Homo sapiens: one gene and its partners. The protein of the gene in region 2 purifies or fractionates together with the protein of the main gene of each other region. This does not show direct contact. Each region holds a gene or a part of one and is shown on either strand. Other genes may lie near its edges. The genes, in order: CIBAR1, PER2 and REXO5.

The links.
Region 1: the proteins of PER2 (region 2) and CIBAR1 purify together in Homo sapiens (affinity purification with mass spectrometry; one large-scale study listed by BioGRID and IntAct). This does not show direct contact.
Region 3: the proteins of PER2 (region 2) and REXO5 purify together in Homo sapiens (affinity purification with mass spectrometry; one large-scale study listed by BioGRID and IntAct). This does not show direct contact.

Annotation. Positions count from the first base shown.
Region 1 is NC_000008.11:93,703,415-93,707,064, reverse strand, and holds part of CIBAR1 (CBY1-interacting BAR domain-containing protein 1), read right to left. Parts: intron 3,446-3,650; coding exon 3,377-3,445; intron 2,157-3,376; coding exon 2,055-2,156; coding exon of another isoform or gene 2,017-2,054; intron 1,641-2,016; coding exon of another isoform or gene 1,622-1,640; exon of another isoform or gene 1,030-1,621; intron 1,021-1,029; exon of another isoform or gene 869-1,020; intron 569-868; exon of another isoform or gene 1-568. UniProt on the Homo sapiens protein: Plays a critical role in regulating mitochondrial ultrastructure and function by maintaining the integrity of mitochondrial morphology, particularly the organization of cristae.
Region 2 is NC_000002.12:238,254,064-238,257,713, reverse strand, and holds part of PER2 (period circadian protein homolog 2), read left to right. Parts: intron 1-627; coding exon 628-792; intron 793-1,802; coding exon 1,803-2,057; intron 2,058-3,650. UniProt on the Homo sapiens protein: Transcriptional repressor which forms a core component of the circadian clock.
Region 3 is NC_000016.10:20,804,944-20,808,693, forward strand, and holds the start of REXO5 (RNA exonuclease 5), read left to right. Parts: upstream 1-1,583; 5' UTR 1,584-1,762; exon of another isoform or gene 1,763-1,902; intron 1,903-2,008; 5' UTR 2,009-2,010; coding exon 2,011-2,148; intron 2,149-3,750. Other genes in the region: ERI2 (ERI1 exoribonuclease 2), read right to left, coding at 1,465-1,487.

The DNA of each region.
Region 1 (3,650 bases), on a different chromosome or scaffold from region 2:
ATTTCTCACACTGCATTATAGGAAGCTTGTTCAGGAGTCACCTGGAGCCCTACTTGGGGGGTGAGCAGGCAGAGCCATGGGATTCTTCTTTTCCCTATCCTCTCTATCAGAGGGACTCCATTTTATCTTACATATCAAACTTAAACATACTTCTACATAGATGAATTTTAAGAGTTTATCCTGGGAAATATGCCATAATACTATGATCGAATATTTGTATATTTATATTGACTACATTTGTATGTAGATTGTCCTTCATGTTTTGGTCTCAGGTTGTCAAAATACACAAGTTGCAGATCTTACCCAGTGAGCACACTGACTCACCTGTGGCAGTAATCTCTTAGGTTATATTTATTTCCTCACCATGTGAACCCAAAGACCTGCTTCATCTGTGCTCTAAGATTATCTCCCTTCCACAGCAGTGTTTACAGCACAGCATCCAAGTCAGAAAAATGTTTGTCTTAGGAATAGATTCATTTCTGTGTTTACTGTAGACACCAGTACTCCTGATTCAATCTTGCCAACTACTCAGGATTCCAGATGTCTTCATGTATCACCACCTCCCCAACTCCAGGCCACAAAGAACAAAACAAAACAAAAAATTTTCATCCCTAGCTTAATTCTTAAACACTGGTGAACCCCCCCACCCACCCTGCCCCATAGCCTCTGCCTTGATCTCTAGTTATCAGTCATAAATTTTCCAGCATTCTCTGGTTTGTCTGACTTGCTTAAAACACAGATTCTATAATCTCCATTTGCGGATCTTATGCCACTATGACTATCTAGATATTTCTGTCCCAGTCTCCAGTGGGCACTCCCAGCCCTATGGCTGCCCATTTTTGTTTAGTACAAAGTTGGGCTTCTGTACCTTTGGTCCAAAGGAAGAAGGACCAAGCAACTGGCGCAGCCCCAAATCGCTGCTCAAGAGACTCCCCTCAGGAATGGAGGTGTTCTGGAACCTCAAATGCTCTCAAAGAGCCACTCCTCATGTGGTTTCTGGCTGAGCTGGGCAGTAACAACCTTAAGGAAGCAGGAAGGAGACATATAGAAGAAGGAATGGGAAAAAGAGGCAGTAGGGATGTTAGTGCTTTCTTTCTCTTTTTCTTTTTTTTTTTTTGAGATAGTCTCGCTTTGTTTTCCAGGCTGGAGTGCAGTGGTGTGATCTCAGCTCACCACAACCTCCATCTCCCACGTTCAAGCGATTCTCTTGCCTCAGCCTCCCAAGTAGCTGGGACTACAGGTGTGTACTACCATGCCTGGCTAATTTTTGTATTTTTAGTAAAGACAGGGTTTCACTATGTTGGCCAGGCTGGTCTCGAACTCCTGACCTCATGATCTGCCTGCCTCGGCCTCCCAAAGTGCTGGAATTACAGGCACGAGCCAACACGCCCAGCCAGATGTTAGTGCTTTCTACACAGTCCTACCCATCTCAGTTGCTGGCAATTAGGCACTATTTTGTATGCTTTTGTTTACTCACGAACAAGGCACATTGTAGTTTAAGAAAGTCATGTTTAACAGAAGAACCTTGTTATAGTAGACAGTCCTTTCTAGGTTTGTGTCCAACTTGGATCTTAATTATACTCTTAAGACTCCTGAGGTTAACTGGCTGGAAGTCATGATGTCACATAGTTGTTTTATTTCTAAAAGATGAAGGAAATTAAATGGGAAAATTTTCTTTCCTTTTCTCAAAGCAGGGCATAGAGGACACTGATATATTAGGATTAACAATAGATCTTTAATTGTAGAATTAATATTTAGTCATCACCATGTGAAAATAAAATTCAGAAATTTGAATTTACTGTTTATAAAAACATCTGAATTTTTTGTTTGTTCGTTTGCAAAGTCTACTGTGTAAAACAATATAAGGGGATTTGAATTAGGTGGCGTAACCTCTTTAAAATTTCTATAGTGAGAATTCCTAAATGCATTTCTTTTCAATCTTTATATTCAAATTCTCTACTCGTTTAAAAGTAAAAATGCACAATTTCTATATACATTTACTTTTGTACTCCATACCTTAAACATTTTTTTAAAGACCCAAATTCAAAGGATACAATAACATGTCGATCAGATGGGTTTCGCTGACGTGTTCTTTCTAACTGAGTTAATTGCTTAGCTTCTCGATTCCTTGCTGTGAGTGTTGCTTTGAGGTCATCCTGCAAATTGGCATTTTTTTGTTAGTAAAAATGTCTGACTTAAGAAAATTCAGTTTTAAGAATGGAAGAATTCTTTTAAGAATTGTTTTAAGAATGGAAGAATACTTCTTGTGTGATCCTGGTACCATTACCACAGGAATTACAAGTATTACATAATTAGTGTCTATGTATGTGAGAATGTGTTTAATATTCTCTCAAAATAATGACACAATTTCAGTGCAAAACTATTAACCATAATAGATATATGCATATAAATGTGTAATTTTGATTGCGGTAGTGGTTACATGGGTATAAACATTTGTCCAAAACTCAATGATCACTTAAAATGGAAGAATTTTATCGCACATAAATCAAGGGCTCCCAACCCCCAGGCCTATTAGGAACTGGGCCAGCACAGCAGGTGAGTGGTGGGCGAGCTAGCATTAAGGCCTGAGCTCTGCCTCTTGTTAGATCAGAGGCAGCATCAGATTCTCATAGGAGTGCAAACCCTATTGTGAACTAAAGAAAAATTGTCTTCCACAAAACCGGTCCCTGGTGCCAAAATGGTTGGGGACTGCTGATGTAAATTATCAATAAAGTAACTTTTAAAAATAGAACTCTCTCACACATTTTAAAAGTCTAAATGCTATCGCTTTAAAGAAAAACTTATATTCATATAGTAAAGCAATTTCTGTCCATATATTTTTCATAATTATTTTAAAGTTTCCATAATAATGTCTATATTGCTACAGTATACTTAATAAGCTCATTAAAACTATTTCATTATTCTTAAAGATCTAAGTGATCTTTCAGAGTAAAAAGAATGACTATATACTACTTTGTATTTCTTTTCTTTTTTTTTTTTTGAGACAGAGTCTCACACTGTCGCCTGTGCTGGAGTGCAGTGGCGCTATCTCAGCTCACTGCAACCTCTGCCTCCTGGGTTCAAGCGATTTTCTTGCCTCGGCCTCCTGAGTAGCTGGGATTACAGGTGCATGCCACCATGCCCAGCTAATTTTTTTTATTTTTAGTAGAGACGGGGTTTCACTATGTTGGCCAGGCTGGTCTCAAACTCCTGACCTCGTGATCCGCCCGCCTCGACCTCCCAAAGTGTTGGGATTACAGGCATGAGCCACCACTCTTGGCCACTACTTTGTATTTCTTATTTAAAAAAACAATTGGAAACCTCATAGTCTTTGCCAGAGTAACTCACAGTTAAGTGAGAAAATGGATTTACTTACCCGTTTCATTTTCACAATGGTCCCATAAGTTTTCAAGGGTTCAACTACTTTGGCTTCAAGTCTTTCAACCTATTGAAAATTATTAAAATTTTAAATTAGAACGTTTAACATTTTAACCTATAAATAAAAGGCTAATCACTAGAAATTGATAAGACTCAGAATCTAAACTCAAAACACATTAAAAACTGTTAAGCTGCACAGTAATAGTAAAAGTAGAAAAGCACCTGGTGAGCAAAATGACAAGAAAATGTCTCAGGTTTCCCAGGAGCTCATC
Region 2 (3,650 bases):
TCACTTGAGGTCAGGAGTTCAAGACCAGCCTGGCCAACATGGTGAAACCCCATCTCTACTAAAAATACAAAAATTAGCCAGGCATCATGGTGCATGCCTGTAATCCCAGCTACTTGGGAGGCTGAGGCAGGAGAATGGCTTGTACCTGGCAGGCGGAGGTTGCAGTGAGCCAAGATTGCATCACTGCACTCCAGCCTGGGTGACAGAGCGAGACTCCATCTCAAAAAAGAAAAAAGAAAGAAACAGGGTATCCCGGATTATGGTTGGCTCCTGACTGTCGGAAAGCCCCTCCCCACAGGCCTGCAGAAGGGCTGCCTGGCTGCAGGCAAGAGCCCCTCACCAAGTGTGCCCTGCAGCTGCCAAGCTGCTGCGCCTCCCTGCAGAGGCCTCAGGATTTAAGTGTGTAACTGCTCCCATTTCAGAACTTTCTCTTTTCCACTATTCTTCTATGAATAAACATTGGGGACAAATCACCCCATGCCTGGGCCAGAGCATCTGTGGGATGGGATGGGATGGGTTGTGTGCACCCTGGTGTGGAAGCTGTATGGGCACTTGGGTGTCGGTTTCTCATCTGCACAGTGCATTGTAATGACACACTAATGTTTGTTCCCCCTTCCTCTCATGAAGAGGCAGAGCCGCCCTCCAGGGTGAACAGCCGCACGGGAGTAGGTACGCACCTGACCTCGCTGGCACTGCCGGGCAAGGCAGAGAGTGTGGCGTCGCTCACCAGCCAGTGCAGCTACAGCAGCACCATCGTCCATGTGGGAGACAAGAAGCCGCAGCCGGAGTTAGGTATGACTATGGGCTCTTGGATCAGAGAGCAGTTTGATTTTTAACCATGAAAACAAGAAGTTTGCCATCTTAAATTTTTCTAAGTGCAGAAGAACTCCACCATAGCCCGATAGGGGGCGTTTCAGGAAATCCAGTTACGTAAAATGCAGGGTGGAGTGCGGCCAGCCAGGGCCCAGGCAGCAACCTGTCCAGGTCTCTGCTGCCCTGTGGTGCCCTCCAGTGGCAGTTGTCTGTTCTGGCATCAACGCAGGAGGGTTGATTGTGGTGCAAGATCTTATCCCCTTTAATTGGTGCGGAGAGCACTGGGAGCGAGGCCCCACCTCCCTCTTCCCTGGGCAGGCCTGGGGTTCTTTCCTCTGCCCAGCAGAAGGTGCGACCGTTAGCTCTCCCTGTTTGTGGACAGGAGCCAGTACAGGTGGTAAACAGATTTACAATGAGCGCATTGGTGGCTGAGTGTTCTTGTTCTTTAGAATATTATGATTAAAATGAATCCTGAATTTGTTCTTTACTAAGAAGAGGGAAATGATAAGGAAAAAGTGTATGTCCAAGATCCAGTCCCCAAGCCCTCCCTTTCAGGATGGTCAGTGGCCCTGCCTGTCCCTTGTCCTGTCTGCCCCATGGGCCCATAGGGTCCCATCTATCACCATGCCTGGTCCCAAACCCGGAAAGACTCAGCACGTTGATCCAAGTTTCTGGTGTTCTGAAAGCTAAGGACAGCCGAGGGATATCTTCAGCAGCAGAGCTGAAGCCCAAGGTTCCCCACGTTTCCGTTTGTTCAGCCCCAGGTTCCTGAGCACCTGGCTGTCAGGGCTGTCCTGCTCTGCTTCTTGCCTTTTGCCATGAACTTTCTCAGAAAGCTAAATGAAAACGCTGTGAGTCTCATCCTCATGCCACAGGCATCATGAAATTACTTTATACGTGAATGATTTGTCTTGTTCGTGAATATAGTGTGGCCTTAAAATAATAAACAGGGCACGTGTGGACCAGAGCCCTGGGTTCTTGTGTTACAGAGATGGTGGAAGATGCTGCGAGTGGGCCAGAATCCCTGGACTGCCTGGCGGGCCCTGCCCTGGCCTGTGGTCTCAGCCAAGAGAAGGAGCCCTTCAAGAAGCTGGGCCTCACCAAGGAGGTACTCGCTGCACACACACAGAAGGAGGAGCAGAGCTTCCTGCAGAAGTTCAAAGAAATAAGAAAACTCAGCATTTTCCAGTCCCACTGCCATTACTACTTGCAAGAAAGATCCAAGGGGCAGCCAAGTGAACGAAGTAAGTGATACCCGAATTAAAAGTGCGTTTTAAAAAACTTTATTCCTGTTGGTACTGAGTCCAGTGCTGGTTTCAAAATGTGAAATGTGTCCAGTTTCAGAAGCATTAACATATAAGACAGCTGTTGGAACTTCCCTGGCAACGCCATCTGTTTCTGTAGAACTTCCCACCGGGGGGGTGCTCTCGGGATGTCAGCTTGCATTCCCTGGGGAATAGTCCCAGGCTAGTGCCCGAGGTGGGAAGAACCATGGCAGGGCAGTGCTGCCATGTCCACATTTCTTGCCTGAGTAACCATGTGGGCAGGGGCCCCACCTGGACGGGACCTCCAGAGAATCAGCGAATTCAACCTCAAGATAGTGGGCATGTAGTGCTGGGCACATGAGGAAGGAGGGATGTACCATTTCTGGTGCCCTTCTCCCCAGGAGATGCACCCTCCTGACTGGGCCAGCCTCAGGGCTGGGCTTTGGACTCCAGAGTCAGGCAGAGTCCATGGTCATGGTGTGGGAAGCTGCTGTGTAGGCCAGGTGCCACTTGGGGGGTTGAAGGTCAAGGGATGAAGTAAAATAGATGAGCTTCTTCACCCCTTTCCTGGCCCAGAAGTCTGGCTCCTGATCCCCCAGTTCCTTCCCATACCCCCAGACACTTGTTAGAGATGGGGCCTCTTCCCTTCCCCCTGGGACGCTGGCACAGGGATCAGAGCCAGTGAGCCCAGGAAGCCACTCACCACAAGGACCCAGCTCCCCCGGGTCTCTGGGCAGACGCACCAAGGGAAATTTGTAAGAAATTAAGCCCACAGCTTCCTTGAGGATTATGTCTTCTCCACTCTTTCCTTTCTCTCCTTCTTCCCCAGATTCAAGAGTTACTGCCAGCCCATAGAGAACCTCTGTAGAAATTAGAAAAAGGTGTACTCCATGGCCATGAGCAGACCCACCCCATGGGACCAGCCTAGTGCAGAGTTCCCGCTCTTGCTTGCCCCCTAGACAACTCTGTAGCCTTATGCAGTGCACAGACTACAGAGCTGCCTAGGGCAGCCCTGCCAGACCCAGACATGACATCCCAGGAGCCCAGTGCTTTAGCCACTGTTCCCACCAGGGGACAGATTTCTTGTGAGAAGAACACCAGATAGAGAGGCTGAATTGCAAAACCTCCATTTACATAGGAGTTTGCCTTGGACTAGCCCATTTCCCTTCAGCACATCCCAAAGGCATGGGACTGCCTTGGCACAGCTGACAGATGTCCCAGACACCTGCTGCAAGAGCCCCAAGTCACTCCGCGTGATGTGAGAGGAAAACCAAAGTTCCCTGGATCCCCCTCCCACTCCCCAGGGAGGCCATGGGGACATACCCAGAGTCCCTCCTTTACCAATTGAGTCCCTCCATCTTCCTGAAGAATGCCTTACTCAGCAGCACTCGTTATTGCAGAGGAAGAATTTGGTTGCAAGGCAATGCTCCCCTCTGATCTTGCTCAGGCTGTTTGACAGGTGAAAGAGGAAACATCCCTCTTTAAGGAACAGTAGTGACAGTGCTTATAAATTGAAAAATAGAGGAGGTCAGTGGCTCTCCCGTTCAGATTTCACTAACCAATTTTTCCCCC
Region 3 (3,750 bases), on a different chromosome or scaffold from region 2:
CCTATATTTTATGGATGAGAAAACTGATTCTTAATTTGCCAAAGAACATAGCTTTGGTATGTGAACCCAAGACTGTCCAATTCTGAAGCTCATGCTATTTGCTATTATATTACATCTTTCTAGTAATCAGAAATATGCACAGCGCATCCAGGAATCAGGGAGGACACAATAATTCATATTGTGAATTAAAAGGATCACTAGGCCAGGCACCGTGGCTCACACCTGTAACCCCAGCACTTTGGGAGGTTGAGGCGGGTGGATCACCTGAGGTCGGGAGTTCGAGAACAGTCTGACCAACATAGAGAAACCCCATTTCTACTAAAAATACAAAATTAGCTGGGTGTGGTGGTGCATGCCTGTAATCCCAGCTACTTGGGAGGCTGAGGCAGGAGAATGACTTGAACCCGGGAGGCAGAGGTTATGGTAAGCCGAGATCGCACCACTGCACTCTAGCCTAGGCAACAAAACTCCGTCTCAAAAAAAAAAAAAAAGATCACTAGAAAATGGGTTTGTAAAAAGTAGAGGTTCCTCTTCAAAGACTTCCTTCCCCGTCTAATTAGGAATAAATAGTAACTTCTCTTAGAGCAAAATTTATTCAAAGACCTGTGCTAACATTCTTAAATATCTGCTAGATATAATAAAGAAATCAATGTACTTTATGTTCTTAGCTCCCACAATTTAGCCTAAATATTTGCCCTGGCATGCTTATACTGGTCCAATCAAACATTAGGTCATAGCCTGTTCCTCTTCCTTACTTAAAAGTGTTTTTACCTTTCTCAGCATTCCACAAGTTACTTCCTTCTTCCTTTGTTCTCCTCTGCCTTTGCCTCTTTTAAAAAGTTCTATGTTGCTAGTCAGTCGGGACAAATACAGAATGTGAGGTCCCGTTCCAGCCAAAGGAAACCGGACACAGCAGTAGGGTGGACGCGCCACGTTATAAATGACCCTGTCTCCTTTGTTCAGTGTACTCTCCTGGCAAAACTGCTGGCGAGTGTACCCTTTCTGCAGGAAGTAAAAATGGCCTTACTAAATAAATTAAATTTAAGTTTAAGTTCTATTTCTTTACAGCACCGAGGAACGAGCATTTCGAACAGGTTGAACACCTTGACAGATTCAGTGTGTGGCCTGCCTGAGACCTCCAACCAGTCTGCAGGGCACTGTCACGTCCAGTCGTTTCCCAAGGCCTAAAATAGGCAGGCACTGGCTCAAGGCCACACAGTCAAGGCCCCAGGGTTCGTCCGCCTCGGGCTCCTGTCACCCTCGGGTAGAAGGTGGCCCAAGGCTGAAGACCGAGGTCCAGGGAGGCGCCTTTCCAACCGTGCCAGAGAGGGCAGGTCGCAGACGCCGGGGCTGCGGGGAATAGAGGCCCTCACCGCAGATGCCACCTGCCGTGCCCTGCTCTGCGGCCAACGCCAGCGCTGGACCCGGAGCTACCCGCCCCCGACCCGGAACTCCCTCGAGTACCGCGCGAGCCGCTTGGTCGCCATTCCCGACACTCCTTGCTTTTCCAAGTCCAGCTGCCGGAAGTCGCTCGACTTCTACTTCCGGTCCGTTCAAAAAGCCCGCGAGGCTGAGGGGCGGTTGTTGTTGGCAGCTGTGGCTAAGGAGGGGAGAACCTCTGCTCCCCGCCCGTCTTCTCTTCTGCGTTTCCCGGGCTAGGGGGCGTGGGGAGTGGTTTTAGGCGGCGAAGCCGCTCGGCAGCACCTTCCTTCTTTGCCAGGCAGACGCCCGTTGTAGCCGTTGGGGAACCGTTGAGAATCCGGTAACCGATGCGGACGGTAAAGCCGTTTGGGTTAGAGCGGCGCGGGTGTCCAGTCCGCGGAACGGGGAGATCGTTGGCACCTTCGCTTTTTTAGGGGAACGGGGATAGTTCGGTAAACTGAATTGAGAAGCGGATCCGAGGGAGGTTGAAAGCTGTCAAGCCCGTGTAGCTCTCCCGCTAGGAGGCGGCACGCGGGGGAATAGGGGCGCTGGAGTTTCCCCAGCTCTACCTCATCTTTCTCCACAGCCATGGAGCCAGAGAGGGAAGGGACCGAGAGACACCCCAGGAAGGTCAGGGAAAGCAGGCAGGCCCCAAATAAGCTGGTCGGGGCAGCTGAGGCGATGAAAGCCGGTTGGGATCTCGAGGAGAGTCAGCCCGAGGCCAAGGTGAGCAACGGGGATCCCGAGCAGGCGGCCCTAGGCGGTTTGGAGCTCCCGGACCCTCGCCCAACCGCCGTCGGGGGCACTGGATTCGGGCGGGCTCTCCGCCCTGGCCTCTCCGAACCTGATCCCTGATCATTAAAATGGGAATGAGTGTAATACCACCTTCCTGCAACAAGGCTGTCATTGGCTGTCACTGGGATAGTGAGTCGGCCGAGTGCGGTGGCTCATGCCTGTAATTCCAGCACTTTGGGAGGCCGAGGCGGGCGGATCACGAGGTCAGGAGTTCGAGACCAGCCTTGTCAACATGGAGAAATCCCCGTCTCTACCAAAAACACACACACAAAATTAGCCAGGCGTGGTAGTGGGTGACTGTAATCCCACCTACTTGGGAGGCTGAGGCAGGAGAATCGCTAGAACCCAGGAACCAGAGGTTGCAATGAGCCAAGACCACGCCATTACACTCCACCCTGGACAACAAGAAAGAAATCACGTCTCAGAAAAAAAAAAAAAAAAAAAAAAACTGGGATGGTGGGCCGGGTGCAGTGGCTCACGCCTGTAATCCCAGCAGTTTGGGAGGCCAAGGCGGGAGCATCATTTGAGGCCAGGAATTCAAGACCAGCCTGGGCAATATAGCAAGGACCCCATCTCTTAAAAAAAAAAAACAAAAAACAAAACAAAAAAAAAACTGCCTGTACATAATAGGAATGTTCATCGATATCCTGGGGCACAAAAATACAATTCCTTGCCCTCGTGCAGTTTACATTCCAGTAGGGCGGGGGTCCCCAACCCCCTGTGCACAGACTAGTACCTGCCTGTCCATGGGGTCCCCAACCCACTGTCCACAGCTGGCCTGTTAGGAACCGGGCCACAAAGCAGCAGGAGGTGAGCGGTGGCCGATAGAACGTTACCCCCTGAGCTCCACCTAGGCATTAGATTCTCATAGGAATGTGCCAAACCTATTGTGAGCCCTATTGTGAACTTTGCATACGAGGGTCCTAGGTGGCATGCTGCTTATGAGACTCTAATGATAAATGTAATGCACTTGAATCACCCCGAAACCATCCCCCCAGCCCTTCTCCCAGTCAGTGGAAAGATTATCTAACACGAAACCGGTCCCTGGTGCCAACGGTTGGGGACCGCTGCAATAGGGGAATAAAAAGGCTGATTATCCCTATCATCCTTACCATTTACTGAGAACTAAATATACTTCATTCATCCCTTCAGTCGTTCATTGGGCTTTTTTGTTTGTTTTTGTGTTTGAGACAGGGTCTCTGCTCTGCTGGACTCAGGCTGGACTACAGTGGTGTGACAAGGATCCTCCTGTCTCTGCCTCTTACAGGCATGAGCCACTGCACCCAGCTATTCATTGGTTTTTATTGTCTGCCATGTGCTGGGGCACTGACCTAGGTGCTTGGGGTACATCAGTGAATCAAGTTCACTGCCCTAGTAGGTCTTATATTCTAGTGGGCAGAGACAAATGATAAAAATAAGTTATAATATGTGAGAGAGGGATTAGGGATGTGATTTTTTTTTTTTTTTTTTTTTTTGAGGTGGAGTCTCCCTCTGTTGCCCAGGCTGGATTTGGCTCACTGCAACTTTTGCCTC